Homo sapiens: one gene and its partner. The protein of the gene in region 1 purifies or fractionates together with the protein of each later gene. This does not show direct contact. Each region holds a gene or a part of one and is shown on either strand. Other genes may lie near its edges. The genes, in order: PCDHA11 and ITFG1.

Evidence for each region.
Region 2: the proteins of PCDHA11 (region 1) and ITFG1 purify together in Homo sapiens (affinity purification with mass spectrometry; one large-scale study listed by BioGRID and IntAct). This does not show direct contact.

Annotation. Positions count from the first base shown.
Region 1 is NC_000005.10:140,867,133-140,871,756, forward strand, and holds the start of PCDHA11 (protocadherin alpha-11 isoform 1 precursor), read left to right. Parts: upstream 1-1,824; 5' UTR 1,825-1,971; coding exon 1,972-4,362; coding exon of another isoform or gene 4,363-4,404; exon of another isoform or gene 4,405-4,468; intron 4,469-4,624. UniProt on the Homo sapiens protein: Potential calcium-dependent cell-adhesion protein. May be involved in the establishment and maintenance of specific neuronal connections in the brain.
Region 2 is NC_000016.10:47,160,403-47,164,226, reverse strand, and holds part of ITFG1 (T-cell immunomodulatory protein isoform 1 precursor), read left to right. Parts: intron 1-1,479; exon of another isoform or gene 1,480-1,562; coding exon 1,563-1,687; intron 1,688-2,394; coding exon 2,395-2,477; intron 2,478-2,636; exon of another isoform or gene 2,637-2,678; intron 2,679-3,824. UniProt on the Homo sapiens protein: Modulator of T-cell function. Has a protective effect in graft versus host disease model.

The DNA of each region.
Region 1 (4,624 bases):
ATATTATCATTTTTCCAGAGTAAACCTTCTAAGGTTCATTTCCCTACCTCGCAAGACTCCACATTCCATGTAACATCTTCATCCCCAATTCCCATAATAAGGTGATTGAGGATCTGTTGTTTCCTTTTGTTCAAAATAAACCTGATGTGCTTCAAATATCATGTTGAATATACTGTCATCTGGTCTAATGTTATGTTTTGATTAGAGGCTACTATGATTGATTATTTTACAGATGCGTAATGGAATTAACGGTTATAAAAGTTGATATGTCTCCTTTAATTTTTTAATACAGAATTTTGCATTTACCTGAATTAGAGTTCTAGTGTTATGACAACATTGGGAAAAGAGTAAATATGAAAAAAGTAGAACAAAATCTCAAATTAATAGTTGAATATATATATAAAATATTAGCATACACATATGATAACTTTTTCATATGCCCTTGCAGTATTTTTAGATTGGAGATAAACCATCAAAACTATAGAACAAAATATTTAAGCTAGAGTGATATTTATTCTAAATCACTTTCTACTCTAAAATTTTGTTGCATCTTCTTTTTTTCCTCCTAAATCCTAAGGGTATATGAAAAGACAAAGAAAATTCAAGCAAGTTACAACTTCAGGCAAAGAAAACTCTCATAAGCAATTCCTGTATTTTACTTAGCATTTTCTATGAAATTCCATTTCCACAAGCACTAAGGTAATTTACCATTTAGTTGAATTGTTTGATTAATTTTCTATGTTTTAAGCACAATATCAGGTACTTACAGAAGGTATAATTAAAAATCACTTCCCTTGTTTTCCATGAACTTCTGCTCCCAAACCCAAAATTCTTTCAACAAGAAACAAACTATTTTCATGAATATAACTGAATTAGATTAAGGAAACCAATGTTGGTGACTTGGAAATACCAATATGGCACAAAGATGTTCAGGGTGATTTTATTTATTTTATAAAATGATAATAAAATTTATTTTATAGTTGAAAAGCCTATTTCTGTCATATCATTGATTCTGTTACATAAAGTGCTAAATTTTGATATCTCATATTATGCTACTATGGCTTACATTAGAAATAATATATGTCAAATAAAAACTCATCTAGATCAATAGACTTTTCCTTTGTGGATTCTTTTTTAAAACTACCAAGTTTGAGAATATGAATATATTTGTTTTTCATATTGTTCTGCAATGAATATAAAGTCACTTATAATCAGAAAGCAATTAAATGTAAATAACAGTAAAGAATGAGAACTATAGAAAATAGATATGAAAATGCAAGCCCACAGAGATGAGAATAGATCATGTGGAACATAAACACTAAAGAGCTGCTTTTATAAAACTTCAATTTTTTCTTTGAGTTCCCTAGCAGCCAAAGTAACAAGGGAGACTGAAAGTAAAACAATTCAAATTTGATAGTATTTTTATATGAGGAACAACACTTTCAGGAAATGTTTAACCCTAGTTTTTCATGAGGCCACCTTAACAACTGAATTCTCTTTCTCTCTCACTCTGTGTATAAGTATTTTAGATAAGTAAAAGAACAATGTTATAATGTTAAGTCAAACATAGACACAATAATTTAAATTTGATGTTAATCGAGAAATACAATGCCATTTCCATATATATTTAGTTTCAATATGACTTATAATCTGAATATTCCATAAATAAGCACGTTGGAAATATTTGGGGGAAGAAACCCAAAACACGTGAAATTCTGTGGTGGTAAATGCAGTGCACAGTACTCACAGTTTTAGGCGCAAGGTGTCGCTCTTTACTTGGTGGAAAGTTCATTTAAAGGTTGGTCTGAACAGTGAGGCACTCCCATACAAAGGAACTCCATCATACCGGATGCCACCGTTTAAGGATCCTTTGAAACTTCTTAAGAATTCAACGAGATTTTTAACCTGAAACTGAAGAATCTGGTACTGTAAGTGTAAAGAAGCTTATTTTGGAAGCCAATTTCGTATGCGATGTTTGGTTTTCAGAGAAGGGGATTGGGCACCCCACGACTACAGCTCTGGCTTCTCCTCCTCGAATTCTGGGAGGTGGGGAGCGGCCAGCTCCACTACTCCGTCTCGGAGGAGGCCAAACACGGCACCTTCGTGGGCCGCATCGCGCAGGACCTGGGGCTGGAGCTGGCGGAGCTGGTGCAGCGCCTGTTCCGGGTGGCGTCCAAAACACATGGGGACCTTCTGGAGGTAAATCTGCAGAATGGCATTTTGTTTGTGAATTCTCGGATCGACCGCGAGGAGCTGTGCGGGCAGAGCGCGGAGTGCAGCATCCACCTGGAGGTGATCGTGGACAGGCCGCTGCAGGTTTTCCATGTGAACGTGGAGGTGAAGGACATTAACGACAACCCGCCGGTGTTCTCGCTCAGAGAACAAAAGCTGCTGATTGCGGAATCTAAGCAATCGGACTCGCGTTTTCCACTAGAGGGAGCTTCTGATGCTGACATTGAAGAGAATGCTCTATTGACCTACAGGCTAAGTAAAAATGAGTATTTTTCTTTAGATTCACCAACAAATGGTAAGCAGATTAAAAGACTGTCACTTATTTTAAAGAAGTCTCTGGATAGAGAGAAAACTCCGGAACTTAATTTGCTGCTAACAGCTACAGACGGGGGAAAACCAGAGCTTACTGGCACCGTTCGGCTGTTAGTCCAAGTCTTGGATGTCAACGACAATGATCCAGAGTTTGATAAATCAGAATATAAGGTGAGCCTTATGGAAAATGCTGCTAAAGAAACTCTTGTGCTCAAACTAAACGCCACAGACCGAGACGAAGGAGTCAATGGAGAGGTAACATACTCCTTAATGTCAATTAAGCCCAATGGAAGACACTTATTTACACTAGATCAAAATAATGGAGAAGTGAGGGTCAATGGAACTTTAGATTATGAAGAAAACAAGTTTTATAAAATTGAAGTACAGGCTACAGATAAGGGGACTCCCCCAATGGCAGGTCACTGTACAGTCTGGGTGGAAATCTTGGACACCAACGATAACTCTCCTGAAGTCGCCGTGACTTCCTTGTCCCTCCCAGTACGAGAGGACGCTCAGCCCAGCACGGTCATTGCCCTGATCAGCGTGTCTGACCGTGACTCAGGTGTCAACGGACAGGTGACCTGCTCGCTGACGCCCCACGTTCCCTTCAAGCTGGTGTCCACCTTCAAGAATTACTACTCGTTGGTGCTGGACAGCGCCCTGGACCGCGAGAACGTGTGGGCCTATGAACTGGTGGTGACTGCGCGGGATGGGGGTTCGCCTTCTCTGTGGGCCACGGCCAGGGTATCCGTGGAGGTGGCCGACGTGAACGACAATGCGCCTGCGTTCGCACAGCCCGAGTACACCGTGTTCGTGAAGGAGAACAACCCACCAGGCTGCCACATCTTCACAGTGTCGGCGCGGGACGCGGACGCGCAGGAGAACGCGCTGGTGTCCTACTCGCTGGTGGAGCGGCGGTTGGGCGACCGCGCGCTGTCGAGCTACGTGTCGGTGCACGCGGAGAGCGGCAAGGTGTACGCGCTGCAGCCGTTGGACCACGAGGAGCTGGAGCTGCTACAGTTCCAGGTGAGCGCGCGCGATGCGGGCGTGCCGCCTCTGAGCAGCAACGTGACGCTGCAGGTGTTCGTGCTGGACGAGAACGACAACGCGCCGGCACTGCTGGCGACTCAGGCTGGCAGCGCGGGAGGCGCAGTTAACAAGCTAGTACCGCGGTCGGTGGGTGCGGGCCACGTGGTGGCGAAGGTGCGCGCAGTGGATGCGGACTCAGGCTACAACGCGTGGCTTTCATATGAATTGCAGCCGGCGGCGGGCGGCTCGCGCATCCCGTTCCGCGTGGGGCTGTACACGGGCGAGATAAGCACAACGCGTGCCCTGGACGAGGCAGACTCGCCGCGCCACCGACTTCTAGTACTGGTGAAGGATCACGGTGAGCCGGCGCTGACGGCCACGGCCACCGTGCTGGTGTCGTTGGTGGAGAGCGGACAGGCGCCAAAGGCCTCTTCCCGGACTTTGGCGGGCGCCGCGAGCCCAGAGGCTGCGCTGGTGGATGTCAACGTGTACCTGATCATCGCCATCTGCGTGGTGTCCAGCCTCCTGGTACTCACGCTGCTGCTGTATACGGCGCTGTGGTGGTCGGCAACGCCCACTGAGGGCGCGTGCGCGCCGGGGAAGCCCACGCTGGTGTGCTCCCGCGCGGTGGGGAGCTGGTCATACTCGCAGCAGAGGCGGCAGAGGGTGTGCTCTGAGGAGGGCCCACCTAAGACGGACCTCATGGCCTTCAGCCCCAGTCTTCCTCTAGGTCTGAATAAAGAGGAGGAAGGGGAAAGACAGGAGCCAGGGTCAAATCACCCCGGACAGGTGAGTTTTCTACAGATTCCACCTATCAGGAAGTGTATGTGAAATTATTTAAAATCCAGTTTTTTTTCACGGATTTTTTAAGGGAAAGTTTTATGAATAACCAGTGTTTTGAATATTGTTTTAGATAACAATGTCTGTTCATAAAATACCAAATGATACACATCTTCAGTCTTTTAATCATATGAATAATCTGGCTTCTTTAACCAATAAATGTCCTATTTCTCTTAATATTTGGTTAGCAAATCCTAAAAGAAATGAGATG
Region 2 (3,824 bases), on another chromosome or scaffold:
GGGAATACAGAATCCACAGAATTCACTACATGAAAAAAAAAAAAAAGTCACTAAACAAATAAACAGTAACAAAACAACAAACCCTTGGGTGGGGTTAAGCGATACCAGAGTTATCAATATTATCTTAAAAGTCCAGTTTTCAACAAAAATTATAAGACATACAAAGAAACAGGAAAGTAGGCTAATACACATCTCTTTAAAAAAATAAAAAGACAACAGAAAATGTGCCTACAGGGCCAGATGCTTTACTTAATTGGTGTGTGTGTGTGTGTATGTGTGTGTGTGTGTGTGTGTGTGTGTGTGTGTGTGTGTAGTTGAGCTTCTTTCACGTGTTTATTGACCATTTTCATGGCTAATAACTATTAGTCATTTGGGAAATGCAAGTAAAAACCATAATGAGATACCACTTCACAACCATGAGCATGGCTATAATACAAAAGACACAACAAAAAGTGTTATTGAGGATGTGGAAAAATTTGAACCATTATCCATTGCTGGTGGGAACATAAAATGGTGCAGGTACTTTGGAAACAGTTCGATAGTTCCTAATGATGTTAAACACTTAGCTACATAATCAAAAGAAAGGAAAACAAGAGTGAATACAAAAATAAACCTGTATATGAATGTTCACAGCAGTATTTTCATAGTAACCAAAAATGGAAATGACTGAAATGTCCATCAATTAATGAAATTAATTAATGAAACAAAATGTATATATAACAAAGTGGAGTATTATTTGGCAAGTAACAGTAATAAAGTATGGAAACATGCTACCATATAGATGAACCTTGAAAACATGCTAAGTGAAAGAAGCCAGTCACAAAAGACCACATTGTATGATTGCATTTATATGAAATCTTCAGAATAGGCAAATCTATTGAGTCAGAAAGCAGATTAGTGATTACATACAGCTGGAAGTGTGCAGGTTGGAAACAGACATGGCTTCTCATGTGTATGGAGTTTCTTTCTCAAGTGATAAAAATGTTCTAAGATTAGATTGTGGTGATGGCTGAACAATTCTTTGAATATACTCAAAACCACTTAACTGTACACTTTAAACGGGTGATGTGTATGGTATGTGAATTATATCTCAGTAACGCTGTTTTCTTTAAAAAGTGAATCATTGGCTGAGCACGGTGGGTCACGCCTGTAATCCCAGCATTTTGAGAGCCCGAGGCAGGGGGATCACTTGAGCCCAGGAGTTCAAGGCCGGGCAACATAGTAAGACCCCGTCTCCACAAATATTTAAAAATTAGCCGAGCCTGGTGGCACATGCCTGTGGTCTCAGCTACTTGGGAGGCTCGGAAGGAGGATAGCTTGAGCCTGAGAGGTCAAGGCTCAGTGCAGTGCTACTGCACTGCAGCCTAGGTGGCAGAGTGAGACCATGTCTCAAAAAAAGAAAAAAGTGAATCATTAATATTAATGACCTGTATCTTTCATTTCACATTTTGAAACGTGATACATTCCAGTACCTAAATTTTTAACATTTTATCATTTTAATATTTGATGGGAGCAATGTTTCCAGAGATGTTTTTAATTTTTTTTTAATTGAATAACTCTAGCTGGCCAACTCAGCCAATCCGCACATTTAGCTCTCCAACTACCATACAACGTGCTTGGTTTAGGTCGGAGCGCAAATTTTCTTGACCATCTCTACGTTGGTATTCCCCGTCCATCTGGAGAAAAAGTGAGTAAAAATTCATTTTGTTTACAATTAATCTATGTTTTAATATTCACTATTTAAGTATTTAAATTAAATAATTTGAACCTAATTGAATTTGAATTCAAATAAACCAAATATTTTTATTCCCTTTAAAGAATAAAGAAAAATTTATTGGTAGTGACCTAAGCTTATCTTACTTAGAGCACATCATGATTTTAAGATACCGTGTAGTTTTTCCCTCTCCTCTCCCATAAACGTCACCTATCCCTCTATCCTGCTTTTTCATCCTAACATTTTTCACCACCTAACGTGTACATAAATATTTTAGTAACATAAATAATATTATTATACATATGTGTATTATTTATATAATATGTAAAATCATATTATTTTACTTGCTTTGTTTATTGTCAGTCTCAATTTGAATTTTAGCTCCAAGCAGCATTTGTACATAGCCCTTTGAACAGTGCCTGCTACGTAAGTGTCTAATAAATATTTGTTGAATGAATGAATTCATAAAACACAAATATAATCTTTCCCAAAAAGATGAGAAAATTTTCCAACAGATGGCACAAAAGCCTTATTTTTGGCTTAATATTGGTAAACATAGCTTAATCCATACCTAGAATTTGAATTTCTCAAAGTAGCTAGATTTTTCATTATTTATTTAGAATAATAATTGTGTTTTTTAAATGTGCTGAATGTTAAATGTTCTTAAATTCTTCTTCCAGTCTATACGAAAACAAGAGTGGACTGCAATCATTCCAAATTCCCAGCTAATTGTCATTCCATACCCTCACAATGTCCCTCGAAGGTAATGTACTTGCTTGAACCGATTTGGTAAAGACACTGCTAACTCTGAATTATACATACAGTGATGTCTTTTAAGCTCTCTCATATTCCTGCTGTGTTCCCATGAGTGCCCATCCCTTAATTTGCTTACGGCAAACTTTAAATGACTAAACATACTTACATAAAAGGTCCCAGACATTTTTCATGAAGAACAAATTCAATCCTATTAGAAAAACAGGAGGTTAACTAATTAGGGATTTATATGTATTCTGCTTAAATAAACTGCTCTTCAGTTTACTAGTTATAAATTCAAACTTTCAGGATACTAAATCTTTGTATAAAGCACTAATCTTTTAAATAAATTATTTGAGAAGTAGTATATATCCCACAGTGGTTGGGCACAAATTTTGGAGTTAAATAGATGTAGGCTAAAATGATTCAGCTCCATTGCTGGCTGACTGCAAGAGTAGGAGCCAGTCCTTTGTCCTCTCCAAGACTCACTTTCTGCATCTGAGGGTGAAATATACTTAACACAGTGCCAAGCATGTGGTAAGCGAATGGTAGGTATTTTTATCCTTATTAACAGAATACATTCATTTCATAATACAGCATTTAACTTTAAATCCTTAAATTTTATTCATTTTTATTTAAATTCCTAGATTGATTCTATTCCTTTTAAATTAGGCGATAAAAGTATTCACTAACATTTAAATTTCATAGGGAAAAATATGCTAGACAAATATCAATATGAGAAAATAACCAAAGAGAAATGGTGAATTTATCTATGAATATGTAACCAGTGGGGTCCCCTGCTTGTTACATTCCCTCTGAAAATACCAGCTTCATCATTCTTTATTAAACATCTCGATCGAATGTATTGATTGCCAAAACCAGCTTATGCCACTTCATGACCTGACTCTGTGCATCTCTATTCAGTGAAGTCACACTGAAATCAGTTATGGTAGGAGAATCTACTCCATGAAAATTGGCAAGTACCATAAACAAGGCTTCCCGAACCCCTCTCTACCTCAGAGCCAGTTTACCAGCATACCAGCAGATGCATTTTATGGTAAATTAATGGGCTTCAGAACCAAACTGCTTAAGAAAATAAACTTTATCACAGCCTTATGCTTGGAATAAGATGACATCATTGAAACAGTTATAGTCCTGGTTCAGATTTTTTTTAATGAGCCTGTATTGTATGTTTGTGTTAGTTTTCTATAGATGAAATTTACAGTAAAACTAGAAAATCTGGACCATGAGTAGGAAACTATATAAAGTACGGTACTTCTATACAGCTCAGTAGCATGATTTTTTTTCACTGCCACGGACATAGAACAGTCTCTTAAGATGGAGTGGTAAGCAAAAA